Homo sapiens: one gene and its partners. The protein of the gene in region 6 purifies or fractionates together with the protein of the main gene of each other region. This does not show direct contact. Each region holds a gene or a part of one and is shown on either strand. Other genes may lie near its edges. The genes, in order: CDC42BPB, SLX9, MKI67, PRKAG1, ELAVL2, KSR2 and JAKMIP1.

The links.
Region 1: the proteins of KSR2 (region 6) and CDC42BPB purify together in Homo sapiens (co-immunoprecipitation; one large-scale study listed by IntAct). This does not show direct contact.
Region 2: the proteins of KSR2 (region 6) and SLX9 purify together in Homo sapiens (co-immunoprecipitation; one large-scale study listed by IntAct). This does not show direct contact.
Region 3: the proteins of KSR2 (region 6) and MKI67 purify together in Homo sapiens (affinity purification with mass spectrometry; one large-scale study listed by BioGRID and IntAct). This does not show direct contact.
Region 4: the proteins of KSR2 (region 6) and PRKAG1 purify together in Homo sapiens (co-immunoprecipitation; one large-scale study listed by IntAct). This does not show direct contact.
Region 5: the proteins of KSR2 (region 6) and ELAVL2 purify together in Homo sapiens (co-immunoprecipitation; one large-scale study listed by IntAct). This does not show direct contact.
Region 7: the proteins of KSR2 (region 6) and JAKMIP1 purify together in Homo sapiens (co-immunoprecipitation; one large-scale study listed by IntAct). This does not show direct contact.

Annotation. Positions count from the first base shown.
Region 1 is NC_000014.9:103,051,050-103,054,549, reverse strand, and holds part of CDC42BPB (serine/threonine-protein kinase MRCK beta), read left to right. Parts: intron 1-3,500. UniProt on the Homo sapiens protein: Serine/threonine-protein kinase which is an important downstream effector of CDC42 and plays a role in the regulation of cytoskeleton reorganization and cell migration. Regulates actin cytoskeletal reorganization via phosphorylation of PPP1R12C and MYL9/MLC2.
Region 2 is NC_000021.9:44,960,529-44,964,028, forward strand, and holds part of SLX9 (ribosome biogenesis protein SLX9 homolog), read left to right. Parts: intron 1-3,500. UniProt on the Homo sapiens protein: May be involved in ribosome biogenesis.
Region 3 is NC_000010.11:128,109,424-128,112,923, reverse strand, and holds part of MKI67 (proliferation marker protein Ki-67), read left to right. Parts: intron 1-478; coding exon 479-791; intron 792-878; coding exon 879-997; intron 998-1,107; coding exon 1,108-1,279; intron 1,280-2,390; coding exon 2,391-2,546; exon of another isoform or gene 2,547-2,977; coding exon of another isoform or gene 2,978-3,071; intron 3,072-3,500. UniProt on the Homo sapiens protein: Protein that associates with the surface of mitotic chromosomes and acts both as a chromosome repellent during early mitosis and chromosome attractant during late mitosis.
Region 4 is NC_000012.12:49,005,277-49,008,776, forward strand, and holds part of PRKAG1 (5'-AMP-activated protein kinase subunit gamma-1), read right to left. Parts: intron 3,324-3,500; exon of another isoform or gene 3,150-3,323; intron 577-3,149; coding exon 467-576; intron 317-466; exon of another isoform or gene 268-316; coding exon 186-267; intron 116-185; coding exon of another isoform or gene 89-115; coding exon 30-88; intron 1-29. UniProt on the Homo sapiens protein: AMP/ATP-binding subunit of AMP-activated protein kinase (AMPK), an energy sensor protein kinase that plays a key role in regulating cellular energy metabolism.
Region 5 is NC_000009.12:23,690,241-23,693,740, reverse strand, and holds part of ELAVL2 (ELAV-like protein 2), read left to right. Parts: intron 1-254; coding exon 255-293; intron 294-425; coding exon of another isoform or gene 426-447; exon of another isoform or gene 448-539; intron 540-853; coding exon of another isoform or gene 854-856; coding exon 857-1,184; 3' UTR 1,185-3,500.
Region 6 is NC_000012.12:117,759,491-117,762,990, reverse strand, and holds part of KSR2 (kinase suppressor of Ras 2), read left to right. Parts: intron 1-1,466; coding exon 1,467-1,980; intron 1,981-3,500. UniProt on the Homo sapiens protein: Location-regulated scaffold connecting MEK to RAF. Has very low protein kinase activity and can phosphorylate MAP2K1 at several Ser and Thr residues with very low efficiency (in vitro).
Region 7 is NC_000004.12:6,082,050-6,085,549, reverse strand, and holds part of JAKMIP1 (janus kinase and microtubule-interacting protein 1), read left to right. Parts: coding exon 1-130; intron 131-584; coding exon 585-704; intron 705-3,500. UniProt on the Homo sapiens protein: Associates with microtubules and may play a role in the microtubule-dependent transport of the GABA-B receptor. May play a role in JAK1 signaling and regulate microtubule cytoskeleton rearrangements.

The DNA of each region.
Region 1 (3,500 bases), on a different chromosome or scaffold from region 6:
GCCTGGTTGTTTCGATTGGAAAGCACAGAATAATGTTTTTGAATAAAACTATTTATAGAGCAATATTAGGTACTCTAACTTCCAAGTGGAATTACTTCTGCTCAGGAAACACATATAGGCTGTCCATCAGTGGACTGTTCAGTTTTTGGATTCACCACTCCATGACATTTGAAACCTCTGATATGTCGATTCCTGTCACGTGGAAAAGCCAACCTTTCCCCACTTCCCAAATCTTGCCAGGTATCTAATGACAATTATGGAGAATTCTTGAAACTTAAGGAAGAAAAGTAGCTGATTCAGCCCAGATTTGGAGGCTTAATGGGGAATATGTGAGGAAATTTGGAAAGTATAGGTAGTAAACTTTTTAAGTTTTAAAGGAAGATTATGGCCTGGTGCAGTGGCTCATGCCTGTAATCCCAGCACTTTGGGAGGCCAAGGTGGAGGATTGGTTGAACTCAGGAAGACAAGACCAGCCTGAGCAACCTGACAAAACCCAGTATCTATAATAAATGTCAAAATAAAATTTTATAAAAATATAAAAATTAGCTGGGCATGGTGGCGCACACCTGTAGTCCCAGTTACTCTGGAGGCTGAGGTGGGTGGATCACTTGAGCCTGGGAGGTCAAGGCTGCAATGAGCAATGATCATGCCACTACACTCCAGCCTGGGCAACAGAGTGAGACCCTGTCTCAAAAATAAATAAAATATGATTATTTTTGGCTCATATTTTCTTATTGCCACAGTGGTCGCATGGGACAAGAGTCATTTCAACTTTTTTTTTTTTTTTTGAGACGGAGTCTCACTCTGTCGCCCAGGCTGGAGTGCAGTGGCGGGATCTCGGCTCACTGCAAGCTCTGCCTCCCGGGTTCACGTTGTTCTCCTGCCTCAGCCTCCTGAGTAGCTGGGACTACAGGCGCCCGCCATCACGCCTGGCTAATTTTTTTGTATTTTTAGTAGAGACGGGGTTTCACCGTGTTAGCCAGGATGGTCTCGATCTCCAGACCTCGTGATCTGCCCCCCTTGGCCTCCCAAAGTTCTTGGATTACAGGTGTGAGCCACCGTGCCTGGCCGAGTCATTTCAACTTTCATTGTAGGTTTTTGTCTTTAATTTTCCTATAGCTTGATTGGTTTCCTCTATGAAATCTTGAACCTTAATGCCCAGCTTTGCGTGTGTATTCTTTTCTTTTCTTTTCTTTTTTTTTTGAGACGGAGTCTCACTCTGTTGCCCAGGCTGAAGTGCAGTGGTGCGATCTTGGCTCACTGCAACCTCCGCCTCCCGGGTTCAAGCAATTCTCTGCCTCAGTCTCCCGAGTAGCTGGGATTATAGGTGCCTGCCACCACGCCTGGCTAATTTTTGTATTTTTAGTAAAGACGGGGTTTCACCATCTTGGCCAGGCTGGTCTTAAAGTCCTGACCTCGTGATCCACCCTCCTCGGCCTCTCAAAGTGCTGGGATTACAGGCGTGAGCCACCACGCCTGGCCTTGCATGTATATTTCTTTAAGCTATTTTGAAAATATCTTGATACCATTTGAAGCAGAACATATGAAACACTTTACAGTTTCCAAAAGTAAATAGCAACAAATACGGACAACCCAGTGAGATGAATTTGTTGTCTTTCATCTTTGTCATATACAAATACTGTCTTATGTGTTAAATATTTTTCCCACAGCTTATTTGTAACAGCTAATGTTGCGTTTGGATGGAGCTGATGTTTGAAATCCTAGCCTATGGGCATTGGACAGGCCACAGTGGTCCTCTGCCCTGGCTGCTGTGTGGCCGTCAGACCAGGAGGGAGGCCTCAGGCTTGATGCTGGTGTCACAGAGGCGGACCGTGGGTTTCCAGTCCCCAGTCCGGGCATCTTCTCTCGAGATGTGCTTCCTCTTCATGAATAGAATTAATCCTCCTAGTCTTCTGGGTGGTTCCTCATTTGTGGCTTTTCTCACCATGAGTGTGATAGTATCTTCTCACGGTCCTCCTCCATGGATGTGAATGCCCATAGCTGTTAGTGTGGGAATGGCCAGCCCAAGGTGTGAGTGGGATGATGCCACCGAATTTAATAAGTAAGGCTTAACTGACACGGTGCTAAACATCTCATAATAAAAAGTGCTGGGATTACAGGCGTGAGCCACTGTGCCCGGCTCAAATACATTTTTATCTTAATGATTTCTCTGGATAGAATATTTGCATAACATGGGAACACTTTTTAAAAATAACAGACTTAAGAAATAGATCTTTTGAGTAAGATCTGAATTATAGGGAAATGTTAGGATTGCATGATAAAAATTAGTTTAACCTAATTTAGATCATGTAGATTCTATGGTAGCTGTTTGATACTGACTATAATAGCATGAGATAGGACAGCTGAAACCATTAAACATTAACAACCCAGCCCTACCTTTTCTGTCTTAAAACTTCAGGCCGGGTGTGGTGGCTCACACCTGTAATCCCAGCACTTTGGGAGGCCAAGGTGAGTGGATCAGGAGTTTGAGACCAGCCTGGCCAACAAGGTGAAAACCCGTCTGTACTAAAAATACAAAAATTAGCCGGGTGTGGTGGCACGCATAGTCCCACCTACTTGGGAGGCTGAGGCAGGAGGATCTCATGAACCCAGGAGGCAGAGGTTGCGGTGAGCTGAGATTGCGCCACTGCACACCAGCCTGGGCAACAGAGCAAGACCCTGTCTCCAAAAAAAAAACAAAAAACCTCTTCCTTCCATGACAGTTGGGCTTCACAGTGAGCAGCAGTGTCTCTCTTAAATCTAGACTTCAAAGAAATAAAATTGGATTTGAAGAAATAGTTCTCACTTCAGGATACCACTGTGTGAGCTACCTGAAAAAGTTTAAAATGTGCAGTGAATTGCCCTTCAGGCAAAATACTCAAATGCATGTAAATTACAGAACTCACAACACTGCAGGGTTGACAGAGAGCTCCTCTGCTTGCCTCCGCCCTGCCTCTTGTCGCAAGCCAGGTGCCCTTAGATGTCTCCTGGTTGCGCTGACATTAGTGATACTGGATAAACAGGCAGGCACACAGGACTGTTAATTCCAAACTATATTAAATACAGTGAAACTGTCAAATGCTTTTCTCTGAAAAGAGACAAAGCTTTTTTTTTTTTTTTTTTAGCTGGAAGAGACTAAAAACAATGTTACCATGTAATCTCATCCCAAAACCCATAACATAATACCTATTAGTCCTTGACCACGTTTGTTTTTTTCTTAGATTCTTAGTGTTATGGGATGACGGTATGTTATGGTTACCTTAAATTTGTGTGAGAAGCTCACAGAAAGCCTCTCTTGCTAATGAGAATGGATGAGAGGAAACACCCTCTCCTTAAATCTAAAATCAGAAGTGTTTTGGCAATGTGAACTGCGTGTAGTAATCTCCCGCCCCCCCGCCCCAAATACACTAGCCACTAACTGGGAGATAAAGGTCAAGTTTCAGTTTGATTTTAAACAATCTGTGTTGGGGGTTAGGTTTTTGGTTAGTTTTATTGATTGG
Region 2 (3,500 bases), on a different chromosome or scaffold from region 6:
CCGTGAAATTTTTTATTGTGGAAGTAACCTGTGCTCGTGGAGTTTTTATGGTTCAGAAGTGCCTGCAGTGGTATGTGAAATCCTTCCAGGCCTTGCCCGCGGTGAAAACAGTGTCTGCGCATAGCGGCGTGGGTGTGGGCAGGGCCCCTGGTGTCCCCAGACCCTTTCAGGCCTGTGGCTCCCTCTTTTCTGAGGTCAGCCTTGCCACGTGCTCCCAGCTGCACGTCTCCGCAGGCTGAAAGCCACACTTCCCACTCAGGTTGTTTTGGAGTATCTCCTTATTTTTCGTGATGCTGGATATTTGCCAGTGTTTTTCTAAGATTGTTTCTCGTCAAAATTATTTTGTATTTTTCGGTTATCTTTTTAGTGTGATTCTGCTGACTTTGTGAAATTAATTTGGAATATTTTCTTTTTTATGTTATCTGCTTTATTTTTTCCTTGGAGGTTTTAAAGAAAATGTATGTTTTTCAGAGGTAGGACCTAGAAAACTTTGTCAGTTTCTTTTGTGATTATTAGTTTTATGGTTTCTATCCCTTTTTGGATATTTCTTAGGGAAATGATTCATTCCTCCATTTTCTTTTTCACAGTTCCTAGCATAGCTGTGAAAGTGGATTTGGACGGGCTACTGGACTGTGGCCATTTGGACCCTGATTTTCTAGGCTGTAATTCTTTGATGATGTGTAAATTTTATTCCATGGCACTTGGTCCTTTTTTTTTGTTTTTTCACAACTTGAGTCAATTTTGGCCACTCATAAAATGATCGAATTTGTCTGAGGATGGTGTCTCATGCCTGTAATCCCAGCACTTTGGAAGGTTGAGATGGAAGGATCACCTACGCCCAGGAGTTTCAGACTAGCCTGGGCAATATAGCGAGACCTTGTCTCTACAAAAAATGTAAAAATTAGTCAGATTAGGTGGTGTATGCCTCTGAGCCTCTAGTCCTAGCGACTTAGGAGGCTGAGGTAGGAAGATCGCTTCAACCCAGGAGTTTGAGGCTGCAGTGAACCGTAATTGCACTAGTGCACTCCAGCCTGGGTGACAGAGTGGGTCCTTGTCTCTAAATAATGTTAATGATCAAATTTAGTCAGATCTCAATCTTCATATGTTAGTTGCCTTCTTATTAAATATTCTGTTTTCTTTATCGTTCTTTATTTGTATCTCCACCTTCATTTCTGATTAAATTAAGAAGTTTTGTCTCTTCCATTTAATAATTAATGTATTTAATAACCAATTCTACTCTTTTGTCTTCAAAATTATTTGTTTTTATTTTGATCACTCCCGTTTTAGCTTTCTTTGGGTTTCAGTTACTCTGCTTATCTGTTTGTATATGTTTTGTTCAGGAGTGAAAGGCTGTAAGTTATCTCTAAATACAGCTTTAGCTACATTTCCCAAGTTACTTTTACTTTGTATTTTATTATGAAAAATTTTATTTAGGAAAGTGGGAAGAATTTTATAGGGAATACCCTGTACCCACCACACAGATTTTACAATCTTTATTACATAACCGTTCATCTAGCAGTTTCTGTCCATCTACCAACATGGGTTTTTAAAAATGCGTTTCAAAGTAAATGGCAGACATCAGTACACTCCACCCCAAATAATTCTGCTAGAGTTCATGGTTCTTTTTTTTTCTTTTTCTTTTGAAGATTGTATTTACATAAAATGAAATGCAAATCTAAAGTGTGCCATTCAATGATTGCTGACAAATGTTGTAGACACCTGTGCAGCTGAAATCCTGTTCAGGTTATGGACCATCACCACCATTCCCCGACAGTCACGCACCCCCCCAGTCAATTACCTCTCCCACTGGCCCCAGAGGTAACAACTGCTGTGTCACCCTTTGTCGTCCACAGTTGAGCTTTTCTTGCCTTAGACTCTGTATAAATGGAATCATGTAGGATGCACTCTTTCTGCATCTGGCTGCTTTTGCTCAGCGTAATGGTTTTGAAACCCATCCAGGCTGCATGTAGCAGCAGTCCATGCCTTTTGATTGCTGAGAAGTATTTCATTGTATGAATACACCATTTGTTACTCACTTTCCTGCTGATGGGCACCTGGGCTTTTTTCCATTTTTAGCTACTGTGAATAAGGCTGCTCTGAACATTCTTTACAAGTCTTTTTGTGGACATGTTTTCGTTTCTCTTGGGTAAGTGCTGAGGAATGGAATGCTGGGTCATAGGGTAGGTGTATGTTTAGTTTTATAAGCAGCTGCCAGACGCTTTTCTAGAGTGGTTGTACACTCACACTCCCACCAGAGCCTGTGAGAGTTCTCCTGGCCCTCAGCTTTGCCAACACATGGCCTGCCGTCTCCTCAGCCTCGGCCGTCTGGTAATCATGAAATGGTATCTCACGGTGGTACTCATTTCCGTTGCCACCAAAAGAGCATTTACATGTGCTTACTGTCCATTTGTGTTTCAGCGTCAGTGAAATTCATTTTTCATGAGGCTTTTTGTCTTTTTATTATTGAGCTCTAAGAGTTCTTTGTCCTAGAGTCCAGTCTTTGGTTGGATATGTGTTTTACAGATGTTTTTCCCAGACTGTGACTTGCCTGTTCATTTTCTTTCTTTTTTTTTTTTTTTGAGATAGAGTCTTGCTCTGTCGCCAGGCTGGAGTGCAGTGGTGCGATCTTGGCTCACTGCAAGCAACACCTCCTGGGTTCAAGCGATTCTTCTGCCTCAGCCTTCTGAGTAGCCGGGACTACAGGCACCCGCCACCGTGCCCGGCTAATTTTTTTGTATTTTTAGTAGAGATGGGGTTTCACCGTGTTAGCAGGATGGTCTCGATCTCTTGACCTCGTGATCCGCCCGCCTTGGCCTCCCAAAGTGCTCGGATTACAGGCGTGAGAACTTTTTTTTTTTTTTTAAATAAACGAGAGTTTAATTTTGAGAAGTTTAATTTATATTAGTTATTGTGTGTGTGTATATGTATGTGTGTGTGTCCTATTTAAGAAAACTTTGCCTAATCCCAAGTCATGAAGATATTATTCCTGTTTTCTTCTAAAAACTTTATAGTTTGAGCTTTCATATTGGTTTTTTTTTTCTATCTTGAATTGTTTGTCTATGTGGTGTTAGTGGTTAAGTTCCTTTTTTCCCCCTAATATGGATATTCAGCTGTTCCAGCACCATTTGTTATAAGTACTTTTCTTTCCTTATTGGATTGTTTTGTTGCCTTTGTGAAAAATCAGAAAGTCTCATAAGTGTGGATCTGTTTCTAGGCTGTCTTCTGTTCCATTGATCTATTTGTTGTACCTTAGCAAAAACCAGACTGTCTTGATTACCATAGCTTTAGGATTAATCTGGAAGTCAGATAACATAAGTCCTTTTTGTTGGTTCGTCTGTCTTGAGGTTGTTTTGGATATTCTAAGTCCTTGGCATTTCCATATAAATTATCATTAGCTTGTCTATTTCTTTAAAAACAACAACAAAAACCTAGTGGGGTTATGATTGGGATTTCATTGAATCTATAGATCAGTTCAGAATTACCATCTTAGCAAAGCAGAT
Region 3 (3,500 bases), on a different chromosome or scaffold from region 6:
CACACCTCTGGGAAGTCATGGCCCTATAGCTCATAACCTTTGTAATAGGGCCTGGGCGGTCTTTCTTTCCTTCTCTTCCCAGCAGGAGTGGAAAGTGATGTCTGGCTCCCTTTCCATTTTACACTGGCTCCCAGGGGCAAGCAGTCCTCCCTCCATGTGGACTGCCGGGGGCTGGGTGCTCACAGCTGGTATTTACTGGGACTGAGATCAGACCCTGCTTGTCTTTCACTGATCAGGATGTTCCTTCCACCTTTTTACCTGAAATGACCTCACTTCAGACTTGGCTTGCTTCTCTTTCCTTTTCCTTAAATGACTGAGACAGTCTCACCTCTACCATAGTCTTCAAAGACAGTGGCTTAAGCATTTGATGCTTCAAGATTTAAACAGCTGAAATTCTTAACTGAATAGGTTTTTATCAGTCATTCCAGAGATGTTAGATCCTTGTTAAGGCTTCTTGTAAACAATTTTGTCTTGTCAGGAACAGCCTCAACCATCAGGAAAACAAGAGTCAGGTTCAGAAATCCATGTGGAAGTGAAGGCACAAAGCTTGGTTATAAGCCCTCCAGCTCCTAGTCCTAGGAAAACTCCAGTTGCCAGTGATCAACGCCGTAGGTCCTGCAAAACAGCCCCTGCTTCCAGCAGCAAATCTCAGACAGAGGTTCCTAAGAGAGGAGGGAGAAAGAGTGGCAACCTGCCTTCAAAGAGAGTGTCTATCAGCCGAAGTCAACATGATATTTTACAGATGATATGTTCCAAAAGAAGAAGTGGTGCTTCGGAAGCAAATCTGATTGGTTAGTCTGACATTAGAATACATATATTAAGGTGAATTTTTTCATGAATGCTAATTTTTGAAAAGTTTCGTCTTTTCCCTTTGACAGTTGCAAAATCATGGGCAGATGTAGTAAAACTTGGTGCAAAACAAACACAAACTAAAGTCATAAAACATGGTCCTCAAAGGTCAATGAACAAAAGGCAAAGAAGACCTGCTACTCCAAAGGTAGGGGCCTCACTGAATGGCTGCTTTACACATACCGGTGTCATCGAAGCTTGCATTCAGTGTGGATTTATGCTTTAATGTCCTGTTTACCTCCTTCCTGTTTTCTACAGAAGCCTGTGGGCGAAGTTCACAGTCAATTTAGTACAGGCCACGCAAACTCTCCTTGTACCATAATAATAGGGAAAGCTCATACTGAAAAAGTACATGTGCCTGCTCGACCCTACAGAGTGCTCAACAACTTCATTTCCAACCAAAAAATGGACTTTAAGGAAGATCTTTCAGGTAAAAACGTAGTCTTAGATCTTATAAATCTTTTGACTCTACTGTTTTTTACTGTGTTAATGTTTGTTTTGCTAACTTTGTTTATCTGCTGTGAAAGAGATTATAAAATAAACGACTCAATCACCCTTCTGGGGTCTTAGTGTTCAGGGAAGATAAAGCTGTTTTGGCTTGCAAAGACAAGTCTCTGCTAATTTTTGGGATCACATGTCCTGCATGAAATAGGTGTGGAAATGTCAAATGCATGTCTTTACCCTGGAGAGCAGCGTATACATAGAAAGCTGGAAGGTGCTTTACAGTGAAGAGAGTTAACTTGTTAATCTGCAGGTACAATAATAGTTTATCCCAGGTGTGGGCCAGTTGTTGTTGAGCAACATTTTGCTTCTTCAGGATTGACTTTCTAGGTAGCTTAACTTTCTTGAAAGAAAGCCCTATGAGAAGATTCCCATAAACGATTGTTGAAGAAATATTTCCATTCAATTCCCACTCTCAGTAAATTGTGGCCTGACTTGTGTAATTTAAAGTGGGGATGGCCGGCGCAGTGGCTCACGCCTGTAATCCCAACACTTTGGGAGGCTGAGGCCTCCTATCATTCCAAACAGAATGATAATGATATTAGATTTTCAAAAATATATATTATTACTTGACAGTACTAAAAATGGGCAGCTCTTTGTCATTTTCTAAAATGTGGGTACGTGTTATTTGTACTTAAAATCTAGAACTGAGCACCCAAGACTTTGAGAAGCATGAAGGCATTTGGCCTCTAGATCCTAGCAGGGAGGCCTATGGGTCTCAGGAGCCCGTCACCAGCCTCCGTGCTCCAGAGCTCACGTGTGGGGTCTTGTTAGGAGGACCCAGAGGTCAGCTAACTTCATTTGTTTCCTTTCCAAGAAAAGCAAAGCGAAGAGCATAACATATCTTCTCTGTGCTCTCTTTTTTACAAAATGAGTACATTATTAATGGAATCACTCTTTTTATGAGGCCTATGTACCAGGATTTCAAGGGAGGAATCTACTGTTATTTCCCACCATTTGCACGTTACATGTGAGGGCTGGGATGGTTGTCTGCATGTTAGCAATATGTCAATCACTTTTCAAATATTTTCATTTAACAGGAATAGCTGAAATGTTCAAGACCCCAGTGAAGGAGCAACCGCAGTTGACAAGCACATGTCACATCGCTATTTCAAATTCAGAGAATTTGCTTGGAAAACAGTTTCAAGGAACTGATTCAGGAGAAGAACCTCTGCTCCCCACCTCAGAGAGTTTTGGTTGGTTTCCTTGTTTCCTAACACTGTGATGTTTTGGGATAGGAACATACAGTATTATTTTTTTACAAGCAGTATGATATTACTTCTCTAAAACAAATGTTCCTGGCACAAAATACCATTTCCGTCTTCTCTGTTCTAATTGAAAGGGAGATTTCAATCAGCAGTTGAACTAACATTGGCATTCATTGACTTATATAGAAAGAAAGACTCCGTTAATGTGTGTAAATGACCTGTGTACACTTTTGGCTTCTTTATTGTAAGTAACCAGGGTGACATAGCAAAAAAATACAATGGTGTCTCACCATATTTACATATAAATTACTCATATTCAAAATTACTGCCAATTACAAAACAGAAAGATAACAGTTTGTATACTGTGCAATTATTCCTGCTAACCTTTTAGGTGGGAGCAGGCCCGGGGTAAGTGTGAGATGGGAGATGAGAATCTGTCTAATCTCTCATTTGGCACTGGTCACTGTATTCCTGTCACAGAGGGAACAGCTTGCTACCCTGAAGATGTTTGCGGTAGGTAAATATTTCCTGTGTAATATGGACCCTAACCACATAAGGATAATCCATGTTATTTTATTGGCGATTTAAGGCAAGAAACAGCTGTTTGTTTCTAATGTTTGAAGGAAAAAATGCCTATATTTACGTCAATGACACAGGGCATGGCAACCTTTGGAGGAACCTTCTGAAGCAGTATTTTTACCTTCTATGATCATTTCAGCATCTAACTTTGCTTAATGATGACCCCACTATAGCACCAAATAACATTATTCTTAATTGTGCATGGCTCTTATAAGACAGATTTATAGACACATAAGTAGCCTCATGTCGTTCAGTGAATACGAAGCTAAATATTTAGTTTTTTACCATATTTTATGAGGCTGTAATACTCGATTGACATGAGACACTAATAGAATGTTTTTATTGTGTATGTTTTTATTTCAG
Region 4 (3,500 bases), about 69 Mb from region 6:
ATTTTGGTCATTGGGTTAAGGTTCCTTACCAAGGCTGATTTATAGTAGCGGTGCAGGATATTGATGAAATCAGTGATGGTCAGCATGCCTAGAGGACAAGACAGAGCCCTCAGCACTGCCTGAAGCTTGTCTCCCTGCCCAGCACAAGATGCCAATAATATTGTGTTCCAGAAACTTTTGCTTACCCACAAAACTTTGCTTCTTACTATCCCATAAAGGGGCAGCTCGTACACCGTTAGTCACCAAAGCAAAAAAAGCTTTCTTCACCTGTAGCCAAGACAGTAATAATCATAAAGGCAAATCCACAGGGGCAGGACTGTAAAAAAAGAACAGTGTTTGGGCATGTTGGGTAAAACATGAGACTAACTTCACAGAAGGATAAGGATATTACCCTTAGGATGAGATAGGATGAGAGGTATTAAACCACAGGCTCCAAAGGGGGAAGGGAAAAGAGGATTTCACCCACCTGCAGGGACGTATCAAATACAACCAATTTGGAGCTTGTGGGAATCAGGTCATAGCAGCGATGAGACTTCATGAAGGAAGTATACACGCTATTGTTGGATTCTGGGGTCTCTGCATAGGGTGGGATAGTTAGTAGCTTCCTTCCACATAAAAACTCCCAATCAAAAGAGACAGAAAACAAAATAGTGTTCTAGTATCTCAAATATTTAGAGCATTATTTTTTAATAAGACCCCTTATTTTATCTGTCTTGTTCCTATTGTTTCCACAAAACCTGGATAAACCTCTTAGAAACCATTTCATCCAACCCCTGTCTCCAGGTTAAGACTTTATCTATTGGTCCCTATAGGTAAAAGAAGTTGACTAAAACATAAAGCCTATAGTATCTCTCTTTAACATGTTATAGTCTAAAAATGTTTCTCATCTTTAATCCAAGCTTTCCCTTTCATATACTTAGCACATTTTCACTTTCCTCTTTTTTCAATGAAGTAAGCTTCTTAAAATTCTTCCAAGACTGTGCTGGGGATGGTGGCAAGCACCTGTAATCCCAGCTACTCAGGAAGTTGAGGCAGAGGATCACTTGAACCCAGGAGCTCGAGGCCAGCCTGGGCAACACAGCGAACCCCTGTCTCAATTAAAAAAAAAATTATTCTAAGACCTGCAAATGGGAAAGTCATGGTCCAAGTTGGGCCATTTCTCATTAACAATAAGTTGGAGCCCAGTGCTCAATCAACCTGGCTCAAAACACCCTGATAGTCCATTCTGGGATCACCCTGTAAATCAGAAATCATCCCACCTACTCTAGACAAATGGGAGATCCTGGCTAGTTTACCTTTTTCTATTCCTGTGATTTTAATTGCTTGCTCTAAACTAGGGAAGTAATCTCCCAAAATAATAGCTTGAATGTGCTACATACTATACTACGTGCACTTAAAAATATTACATTGAGGCTGGGCGTGGTGGCTCATGCCTGTAATCCCAGAACTTTGGGAGGCCAAGGTGGGAGGATCACCTGAGGTCGGGAGTTCAAGACCAGCCTGACCAACATGGATAAACCCTGTCTCTATTAAAAATACAAAATTAGCCGGGCATGGTGGCGCATGCCTGTAATCCCAGCTACTCGGGAGGCTGAGGCAGGAGAATTGCTTGAACCCGGGAGGCAGAGGTTGCGATGAGCCGAGATCGCAACATTGCACTCCAGCCTGGGCAACAAGAGTGAAACTCCGTGTCAAAAAAATAAATAAATAAATAAATAAATTACATTGGCTGGGCGTGGTGGCTCACACCTGTAACCCAGGACTTTGGGAGGCCAAGGTGGGTGGATCACCTGAGGTCAGAAGTTTGAGACCAGCCTGGCCAACATGGCGAAACCCCGTCTCTACTAAAAAAATATAAAAATTAGCCAGGCGTGGTGGCACGTGCCTGTAGTCCCAGCTACTCAGGGGGCTGAGGCAGGAGAATTGCTTGAACCCAGGAGGTGGAGGTTGCAGTGAGACGAGATTGTGCCTCTGCACTCCAGCCTGGGCGACAGAGTGAGACTCCGTCTCAAAAAAAAAAAAAAAAAATTACATAATTTAATCCTTACAACAAATGTGTAAGTAATGTCCTCATGTTTCAGATGAGAAAATAGGTGTAGTTAAATAAACTGCTCAAGGTCACACCATTAATAAGTGGCAAGAAAGACTCAAACAAACCCAGATCTGTTTCCAAACTTCATGCTCTTAAGTCTTTAATCAATTTGGTTTTTAATATTTATTTTTTTAACCAAAGTTATATAGACACACAGTTAAATCAGTCCAACAGTTTTACAAATTTTGTTAAGAAAAAATTGCACTCCTTGCAACCCACCTCCCTGTACTACCCTTCCCCAGAGATGAGAACATCTATCTACCTTAGTTGATTATTTTGGTACTTAATTCTATGTCCTTAAATAACATGCTTGTATTGCTAGTTTCCATTTTTTTTTTCATTTTGGGGCATTATTTATCATCTATCTACCAAAGAAGATGAGAATTTCTAGTTCTCTCTCCTACTAGGACTCCACCACAAACACGTACTTCCCATTCTCCTCATTATTCCAGGAGCTAAACCATAATGTTGGTTATATCCGTATTTCAATCTTTTTTTTTTTTTTTTTTGAGAGGGAGTCTTGCTCTGTCACCCAGGCTGAAGTGCAGTGGCACGATCTCAGGTTACTACAACCTCAGCCTTCCAGGTTCAAGCGATTCTCCTGCCTCAGCCTCGCAAGTAGCTGGGGTTACAGGTGCCCGCCACCATGCCCGGCTAAATTTTGTATTTTAGTAGAGACAGGGTTTCACCACATTGGCCAGGCTGATCTCGAACTCCTGACCTCATGTGATCTGCCCGCTTTGGCCTCCCAAAGTGCTGAGATTACAGGAATGAGCCACTGCACCCGGCCAGTATTTAAATCATTTTGACTGAATATTTATTATTCAGAGATAAGCCAAATAGTAAACTCTGATTTTTTTTTCTTCCTTCACAACTTTGTTTTACCTGGAGTTAATGTCTTGTCCTTTTGTTTAATTTTCTATGTATAATTCTTATAACTAATCCAACCCCCAAATGCTTCACCAACTATTTAAATCTCCTTTTAAGAGGTTCAAAAGCATTAGACAGTCTATCAAAATTTAAACTACCCAAAGAAATCTCCCTGGAGCCTTCTGACCTGCTCAAATCTGGGCTGGTTTGTCTGGTGTGCACTGCTGTCATCCTGGGATCTTTCTTCATCACCATCCTGGGTACCCCTTTCACGTCTGTCCTCTACTGGTGCTCCTATATCGCGTTTTTATCTTTTTTGATTACTCCCTTATTTTGGTGGAACACATCTTCCAGTAGCTTCCTGAGAAAGGGTGCATGGGAGGTATGTGTTTTTGAGACCTTGCAGCCTGTAGATATCTTTATTCTACCCTCATCCTTGGATTTATAATTCGGCTGAATAGAGAATCTGCAGGAAAGCTTGGAATGTGTTTTCCTGCAGAATGTTGAAGGCATTGCTCCATTGCCTGCTAGCTGCTGG
Region 5 (3,500 bases), on a different chromosome or scaffold from region 6:
GAAAGGTATCCTCAGATGACCGTCACTGTGTCCCATGTACTGACCCTTGTAGAGAGAAACCATTCATTGGAAGAACTGTCCTGTGGCAGTCGGTGCCCATTAGCTTAAAAACGTAAAAAGACCCAGCATTCTGAGTCTTCACATATAATCAGTGTACAGATATCCCCTCGGAAGATGGCAGTAATGAGCCCAACTTTCTTGAACATCAAGGGGAAAAATTAAAAACTGAAGTTTGCTAAATGTGTGTTTTGCAGGTTGGACAATCTGCTCAATATGGCTTATGGAGTAAAGAGGTAATGATAGAGGTTCATGATACTCATAATCCCTTTCCACAGTTGATTGGTTTCTTTGATTTTGGGAGTGCTATTCACACCCCTCATAAGTTTTTGTTGGGTTTTATTTTGCATGTGCAACCTAATGAAAAGCTGCTCTTTGAAGCACAATTGACTCAAGAAATTTTTATACCACCGGATGCCACCTGGTCTTTTAAAAACCCATCATTTGTTTCGTATTGCGTTACGACGTTACAGCATGTTTACGTATGTGTTGATCCCTTCCCCTGCCAATCCTGCTTAATTCATGAAGCCAGTTCTAAATATATTTCTTTGCTATTGTGGATGATATTCAGTACAGTGAATAATGGTCATTTCATAACTTATTAATATCTCAGTAGTCTAGCATGTCACTGCAAAGCCACACACAGACCTTGGTCAAAACATGAAATAGTTTATATATTTGTTGGGGGAGGAGAGTTACTAAAATTCTTGGGGATGGAAAAGGTATACGTTCATTGCTATAACCAACCTCTGTTTTTATTTTTTGTGTGTATGTGTGTATTTCCTATTCTGTTTAGCAGGTTTTCTCCAATGACCATTGACGGAATGACCAGTTTGGCTGGAATTAATATCCCTGGGCACCCTGGAACAGGGTGGTGTATATTTGTGTACAACCTGGCTCCTGACGCAGATGAGAGTATCCTGTGGCAAATGTTTGGGCCTTTTGGAGCTGTCACCAATGTGAAGGTCATCCGTGACTTTAACACCAATAAATGCAAAGGTTTTGGATTTGTGACTATGACAAACTATGATGAGGCTGCCATGGCGATAGCTAGCCTCAATGGATACCGTCTGGGAGACAGAGTACTGCAGGTCTCCTTTAAGACAAACAAAACGCACAAAGCCTAATGAGCTCTTGTCCTCAGTCCATTTATATATGAAAACTATACAACAAAGGCAAGTTAAGAGAAACTTTATACATTAGTAAATGTCTTTGTAAGTCAGTGTTGAGATGGGGATAAAATGACTACTTAGCATCCTAAGAAATATGTGAGATTTTTTATTGCTAGTATTTGAATTAAAACTTCTTAAATATCTTTTATGTTTGAATATGGACAAGAGGTACAGGGTTTTTACCTGTCACATTGCATTCTATTGCCTTCTTTGAAGAAGGTGGACCTTTTAAAGTGTTTCAGCTAAGGGAAGACATTTCTTTTCTTTTTACATAACTGCCTTGAACCTGTGAGTAAATATTGAGGCTTTGTGTTGTAATTCTTCAGTTGGTTGTGTCTTTTTTTTCCCCCCTTTTTTTCCTTTTTCTGATTAGCTTTGTGTTTGGTTTACATTTAAAGCATTGCTGTTATGTCTGTTTAAGAAAAGTATTTTGAAGTTTACATTTTTATTTATGAAGTTTAAAACAGTATTTATTTTGTAATTATGATTTGGGTTGGGGAAGGGGGGGCTACATTATAAACGCTTATTGTAAGAATACTGGAGAACTTTTCGTAAAGCAGTACCTTGCCAAAGAGATAAGAGCCTCTTTGATGTGGGTTTAAAAAAAGCATCTATTTTTATAAAAAAGAAAATTTGGAGAAACTTTTTACTGGTCCTGGAACAAATATTTTGACTTGAATACTTTGAGAAATCTCTTCATATGACACCTAGTGAGCTTTTAAAATTTACCAGGAAATTTGCAGCGGTTGGAAAATTTAGAAAGATTTATGGTGTAGAAAATACTTTTGAGATCTTTGTATGAAAGGAGTAGAATCAATGGGGGGAAACACTGCTGGTTTCATTTTTGTAATCACCAGTGGAGCGTCTGATCATCCTGGTTATTATGTGATAGGTGGCTCACATTGATTTGTGATTTTGAAACAAATAAAAAAAATTTACAAAAGAATATATAAGAGCAGGCAAGAAATTTAAATTACCGAGAGATGGGGGAAAAAATCTGTTCTTCCTAAAGAAATCCCTTCAGATAGAGCTCATGGTGTTTAGTGATGTACTTGCAGTATTGTTTGAAGAATTGTTTTGTCTTAAGGAAAAAAGACGTTGCACATGATTTGTACTGCAGCAAATCAGCAAAAGTGATCTGAGTTGGATATATTTGAAGGTATTTTGAAAGTTACGTTCAAGGCTAACACCTGAGCTTTGTGTAATGTAAATAAGACCTTGTGTTTATGAACCTTTCAGCTAATTTAATTTTTTTTCCCTTACATGCCAAGTGATGTTCAGGTTTTGAATGTTTTTGTATCAGTTTTTTCCTTTGTAAATGGCATTAACATTGTTACTTGAGGTCTTGCTTAATCACTTTTGTTGTCCTGAGGACTTGAATTTACAGTGCATCAGATTTGTTGCAAATTTTGTCTGTAGATAGTCTAGCTTCAGCTGTTTATGGTGATGCTACATTTTGGTTTATAAATATGTTTGTGGTATAAAAAAATGAGTATAACCATAGGTTTTGAACAAATTTCCTTACATTTTTCATACAAAAATCATAAATATCTGTATGCTATTGAAATTTAACTTTGTATGATGCTTAAAAACCACTATTTGGGGAAATAATAAAATAAGTCTTTACCATGTATGAAAGAAATTTTAAAAAATACAAAATATTTTCTGATTAGCATCTAGCTTATAATAAATTTTCAAAAAAGCTGAAGGCAAAAATGCCTTCATCAGGATGCACTGAGAACTATATAGTTACGTCCTGCTTTTTGTATAAACTGAGATGCTCACATGCTTCCCCTTAGAACAGGCAATGTGCTATGCATAACATAGTTGTACATTATCTTTGCGGTTGCTTTGAGTTTTATTTTTTATTATTTAAAATTGTAGTTATAAAATTTTTCAGTATAGTACAGTACATATACTGTGAGGCGCGTGCTAAAGTGAATAAGCGAGTTTTCATGCTGACCCACTCAATGCTATTCAGAAATCAATTGGCTTAGCACTTTCTCATATCCTTAGGTGCATTTAGATTGCCAGAGTTAACCTTCTGCGTTTAAAAAAAGAAAAACACTAAAAAATAAAATACATGTATATACTTAAAAAAAAATAATAAGGTTTCCCTCAAGGGAAAACAGCAGCTACATGCTTCTTTCCTATACTACTGTAGCAAACCAAGGCATTGATGAGAGGGCATGCAAATTGTGCTTCACTTTACAGTGTTTTATCAGAGCACTTAATAAAATGTAAGGCTGGTATTTATTTGAAGTTGTACAG
Region 6 (3,500 bases):
ATGAGTGCAGCACACCAACATGGCACATGTATGCATATGTAACTAACCTGCACATTGTGCACATGTACCCTAAAACTTAAAGTATAATAATAATAAAATAAAAAAAAGGTTTTTTTTTTTTTGAGACTGAGTTTCACTCTTGTTGCCCAGGCTGGAGTGCAATGGTGCGATCTCAGCTCACTGCAACCTCTGCCTCCTGGGTTCAAGCGATTCTTATTGCCTCAGCCTTCTGAGTAGCTGGGATTACAGGCACACGCCACCACACCTAGCTAATTTTTTTGTATTTTTAGTAGAGATGGAGTTTCACCATGTTGGCCAGGCTGGTCTCAAACTCGTGACCTCAAGTAATCTGCCCATCTCGGCCTCCCAATTGCTGGAACTACAGGTGTGAGCCTCCGTGCCCAGCTGCCCATATTCTTTTTATCACGTCATTCTGTTTATTTCCCTCCCAGCACCAATAACCATGTGAAATCCTTCTGTGAGCATGTTTTCTTGTCTATCATGGCTGCTTTGGCAGAATGTAAGTCCAGGGGACCAGGGTCTCATCTGTGTTGCTTTTGTGTCTTTTCCAAGCAAAGGGCATAGTTGGCACTCACAGGATGTTTACTGGACAAATGCATGAATAAGAACATGGCGACACAGATCTGGAGGAAGTATGCGGTGGCTGAGGAAGTGGTCAGGGAGGGACTAAGGATGAACTTGACTTCCTTGGAATTTGTGTATCTCACATGAGGGTTAGGTATTAAAATTTCCATGTAAGGGAAAAGTTATCCTTTAAAGTCCTTTAAATCACTTTGAAACTACCAGAACTGGGACCTTGGGAAGTTCAAAAAGTGAGAATTAACTTCTTTGCTTTTCTGAGCATTTGGGCTGTGGGGTCTTCCCAGCTATGGGGCAGTGGAAGGCAAGGCTGTTGAATGGAGAATAGGGTAACAGGGTCAACAAGGGGATTTTATTGTCTTTTTGGAGGAGCCAAGTAGAGATGGTTGGCTTTATGTAAATGTACTTATGATGTAATGTGGGTATGATGTAACATGCATTTGATAGAATGTCTGTAAGAGGTAATGGGCATATGAAATAGCATGCATATGATGTAATGCACATATAATGTGACATGCATATGGTGTAATGTGCATATGATATGTGCATATAACATGCATACAACATAACAGATATATAGTGTAACATGCATATGATATGATGTGCATATGATATAACATGCATACGATGTAACAGGTATATAGTGTAACATGCATATGATGTAATGGGCACATGGTATAATGTGCATAAGATATAATTTGCATATGAGATAACATGCATACGATGTAACAGGTATATAGTGTAACATGCACATGATGTAATGGGCACGTGGTGTAATGTGTGTATGATGTAATGGTGTGTATGGTGTAACTCACCTGGCTTTCTCATGGCTTACCCATTGTCTCTGCTCTTCTGTTCCAACTCAGGAGGCAACCTTTCCAAACAAGACTGGACCATCCAGTGGCCCACGACAGAGACGGGGAAGGAGAACAATCCCGTGTGCCCCCCGGAGCCCACCCCGTGGATCCGCACCCATCTCTCCCAGAGCCCCAGGGTCCCGTCCAAGTGCGTCCAGCACTATTGTCACACCAGCCCCACTCCCGGGGCCCCTGTGTACACCCACGTGGACAGGCTTACCGTGGACGCCTACCCGGGCTTGTGCCCGCCCCCGCCACTGGAGTCGGGCCACCGTTCCCTGCCCCCATCGCCCCGGCAGCGGCACGCGGTCCGCACCCCGCCGCGCACCCCCAACATCGTCACCACCGTGACCCCGCCGGGCACGCCGCCCATGAGGAAGAAGAACAAGCTGAAGCCCCCGGGGACCCCACCGCCCTCCTCCCGAAAACTGATACACTTGATCCCGGGATTCACCGCGCTGCATCGGAGCAAATCCCACGAGTTCCAGCTGGGGCACCGCGTGGACGAGGCCCACACGCCCAAGTGAGTGCGATCGGTGGGTGCCCTGGGGCGGTCGAAACCCGGCCTGCGAGGGGCTGCCCCTTGGTCCCAGGAACTGCCCAGGTCAAGGAAACCGGGAACAGACTTGCGTTCCAGACTCTGGTTGAATGAAAAATGGCTTTTCACAGAGGGTTCTGAGCAAATGAATAGAACAGAATTTCCCAGAATTGGCCGTTTAAAAAATACGATTAATATCCTATGGCCTAGGGGCTAAATCTGATACCCGGCCTGATTTTGTAAATAAAAGGTATTGGAACACGCCCATGATCATTCCTTTATGTGTTGCCTATGGCTGCTTTTGTGTGACAATGGCAGAGTGAGAATAGCCCACAAAGCTGAAAGTATTTACCATCTGGCTTTTTACTGAAAACGTTTGCCAACCCCTGCAGAGTCTAGCCTAGTGCCGCTCCTAGAAATAGGATATGAGGCATATATTAACCTTCAACTTTCTAGTAGTCACATTAAAAAGAATGAAAAGGAACAAGTGATATTAATGATCATAATACATCATTCAACCCAATATATCAAAATTATAATATCTTAACAAAGAATCAATGTAAAATATCATTACAGAGATATTTTGCATTTTTTAAAATACAAAGTCTTTGAAATTGAATGTGTATTTTATATCCACGGCTCATCTCAGTTGAAGGTGGTAGGAAGCAGGACACGTTGGGGAAATTGACAGAGGACCCCTTTGGGGGAGAGAGCAGGTGTGTGATGTAGGGTGAGACTCGAGGATTAGGCAGGTTGCTGTGCTATTCACAGTAGCCAAAAAGTAGAAACAACCTGTGTCCATCAGTAGACAAATGAGTAAACACAGTGTGGTCTATCTATACAATGCAATATTATTCAGGCTTAAAAAGGAAGAAACTTCTTTTTTTTTGAGACGGAGTCTAGCTCTGTTGCCCAGGCTGGAGCAGTGGTGGGATGTCAGCTCACTGCAACCTCTGCCTCCCAGGTTCAAGTGATTCTCCTGCCTCAGCCTCCCAAGTAGCTGGGACTACAGGCCTGTGCCACCACGCCTGGCTAATTTTTTGTAGTTTTTGTAGAGATAGGGTTTCACCATGTTGACCAGACTGGTCTTGAACTTCTGACCTCAAATGATCTGCCCGCCTTGGCCTCCCAAAGTGCTGGGATTACAGGCATGAGCCATCATGCCCGACCTGGGAGGAACTTCTGATATATGCTACAACATGAGTGAACCTTGAAGACAGCATGCTAAGAGTAAAATATGCCAGACACATAATGACAAATACTGTATAATTCCACCAATATGAGATACCTAGAGTAGACAATTTATAGAGGCAGAAAGTAGAACGGTGGATGCCAGGGCTGAGGGGAGGGAGAATGGGGAGTTGTTATTTATTGGATATAGACTTTGCATTTGGGATGATGAAAACATTCTGGAGATGGATGGTGGTGATGGTTGTACAACAATGCAAATGTAATTAGTACCATTGAACTGTACACTTCAAAATGGTTAAGATGGTAAATTTTAT
Region 7 (3,500 bases), on a different chromosome or scaffold from region 6:
GCTGCTTCTGCAGAAAGAGGCTTTGGATGAGCAGCTGGTTCAGGTCAAGGAGGCCGAGCGGCACCACAGTAGTCCAAAGAGAGAGCTCCCGCCCGGGATCGGGGACATGGTGGAGCTCATGGGCGTCCAGGTGAGGGGCAGCAGCTTGTGCCAGCCTCAGGCTGGTCCCCCACCCATTTAGGTGGCATTTTTCTGGTCAGCCACAGAGGACTCTGAGGTGGCATGTATTCACTCATTCATTCATTCACTCAGTATTGGAGGGGATGTTATAAGTTCTTTGTGCTGGACGCTGTGTGAGGTGCCGGTGCGTGGCGGCCTTTGTAAGAGATACGGGGTGGGAGGGGCCTGACCACAAGGGCCCCAGGGAGCCACGGAAGGGTTTGAAGTCTCAGTGGCCGTCTAGATGGAGTCTTCCGCAGGTGTGCAGTGGGCTTGGGTGTTCCCCACCTTGCTGTGTGGCATGTGGGCCCCTGAATAAGGATCTCACCCATTATGTCATGTGAATTTTCTAAGAAGGCTCCACACAACTTCTTCAAAGTACATTTACGTCTTGACTTTTTTTTTTTTTTTTTTTTTTTTTTTAGGATCAACATATGGACGAGCGAGATGTGAGGCGATTTCAACTAAAAATTGCTGAACTGAATTCAGTGATACGGAAGCTGGAAGACAGAAATACGCTGTTGGCAGATGAGAGGAATGAACTGGTAAGTAGCCCCAAGAGACAGGCGGTGCCTCATAGGGTGCAAGGAAGGGGCCCTGAGTCCCTGAAACATGCCCTGCACAGAAAGTTAATGCAGAAGCCTTCTGGTTCTCTGAACTTTCCTTCTTACTTCTTTTCGATTAAAAATCTAACACATGCTCATTGAAGAAATCTCTTACTGCCATTTGTTTTTGTAGGAACTTATCTTTAGCAAACAACTGGAGAACTTCCATGAGAAGCATGGAGAGGATGTTCATTGCAGTGTTGTTTATGTTAACAACCGAAACCGAAAAAAATCAACAATTAAAAAACCAAAAAACCCAATTGTTCAATACTAAAGCGTAGGGCAGAGTGATTATGGAATATTTATACAATGAATTCTAGACTGTCATTAAGATTGATGATGGAGACCCTCTTTAATTGAAATGGAAACGTGTTCATAGTAAATTAAATGAAAAATGCATTTTACAGAACAATAATACATTGTCATCATCTTGAATATTAGAAATTATTCTTTTTTTTTTTTTTTTTGAGATAAAGTTTCACTCTTGTCGCCCAGGCTGGAGTGCAATTGGCACCATCTTGGCTCACCGTAACCTTCACCTCCCGGGTTCAAGCGATTCTCCTGCCTCAGCCTCCCGAGTAGCTGGGATTACAGGCATGTGCCACCATGCCCGGCTAATTTTGTACATTTAGTAGAGGCAGGGTTTCTCCATGTTGGCCAGGCTGGTCTTGAACTCCTGACCTCAGGTGATCTGCCCGCCTCAGCCTCCCAAAGTGCTGGGATTACACACAAGAGCCACCACATCTGGCTAGAAGTTATTCTTTTAGGTGGTGTAATTATGGGTAATTTTAATTTGTGCTTATGTATTTACTTTTTTGCATAAAATTTTATATACTTGTAAACTAAAACTTATACATTAATTTTAAAAATAATGAACATGGACTTCTGGTTAAAAAAGAAATCTCCAGTAAAAATAGAAATTTCATGAATATGTTTACATTTTCTGGATAACAGCAAAACTAATTTTTATGTAATGGCAGTTGATACATCAACTTCTTGACAGATGCCTCATAATTTTTATGTTTATTCTAATTTTTATTATGAAGAGAAGTATATCCACAGAATATTTGAAAAAAATGAGTGGTGAAAAGTGTCCGTAAGTATCACCTCTTCACAACTTTAATAGGATCAAAATAAATTTACTTCCTTCCAGTATTTTTAAATGTTTTTTTTTTTTTGGCTTTAATCAGACTGTACATCTAATATTATGTCTCTACTCTTCATTTAAATATTTATAAGCTCATAAATACTCATGAGCTGCATAGTTTACTGAGTGGATTAGGAAAAAACACAGGCTTCTGGAAACATGTCAGATCAGACTGAAGTAGTTAAAAGTAGAAACTAATAAGTTTGCCAACGCTTCAATCTTTTTTTTTTTTTTTTGAGGTGGAGTCTTGCTCTGTCGCCCAGGTTTGAGTGAGGTGATGTGATCTCAGCTCACTGCAACCTCTGCCTCCCGGGTTCAAGTGATTCTCCTGCCTCAGCCTCCCAAGTAGCTAGGATTACAGGCACCCGCCAACACACCCGGCTAATTTTTGTATTTTTAGTAGAGATGGGGTTTCACCATGTTGGCCAGGCTGGTCTTGAACTCCTGACCTCAAGTGATCTGCCTGCCTCAGCTTCCCAAAGTGCTGGGATTACAGGCGTGAGCCACCGCGCCTGGCCTCAATCTTAAAATCATGAGGTAACTACTGCTAGTTTGGAGTGGTTCTTAAATGTTCTTAATGTTTAAATAAATACCTTAAAACTCACCGAGAGACTTTGTTTTATTTTATGGATATGAATTGGGATTTTTTTCCCTGCTGTGTATTGTTCTGCAACTTGCTTTTTTCACCTCATTGATCAATTACATCACTCCCCATCAGTGCTTAGAGATCTGTCTTTGTCTTTTTACCAGCGGCTTGGTAGTCCATTGTGTGGATATACCATGGTCTGTTCACCTCTCTTCCCAGTGGTGGATCTTTAGGCTGTTGCCGCTTTCTGGATTTCTGTGAGGTGCCACATGCCTGTAATCTCAGCACTTTGGGAAGCCAACGTGGGAAGATTCCTTGAGCTCAGGAGTTCCAGCCCAGCTTGGGCAGCATGGCAAAACCCCATCTCTAAAAATACAAAAAAATTAGCTGGGTGCAGTGGTGCACACCTGTAGTTCCAGCTACTTGGGAGGCTGAGGTGGGAGATCACTTGAGGCCAGGACGTCAAGGCTGCAGTGAGCTGAAATCACGCCACGGCACTCAAGCCTGGGTGACGAAGTGAGACCCTTTGTCAAAGTGACACATGTCATTTTACCTACCTTCTGTCTCGAAAAAAAAAAATGCCATGAAGAAGATACATATGGGTCTTTACTGACTTTACATAAAGGTTCAAGTCAGTAAAGACACGTATGTATCTTCTACATGGCATTTTTTTGGGGGGGCGGTAGGTTTCTAGAAGTAGAATGCATGGGTCACATGGTACATTTTATATTTCAACCTATACCATCAGAATATTTTACCTTAACATTTACAGCCTGGGGAGTAAACGCAGGGGTCTAGAGTCAGTCCCTTGTGTTTGAATCTTGGTGAACTCAAACCACCAATCTTTGCAAAAGTGCAAAGCATTCTTGGCACTTTCTTTGTGAAGTTGGGCCCATTGCCTCCTCTCTTTGGGCTCAGGTTCTTTGTCTATAAAATGCGGATGGGGAAGGTGGCCCCTTCACATGTGTTGGCTGTGCCTGTGGTTATCATGATATTGATAGAT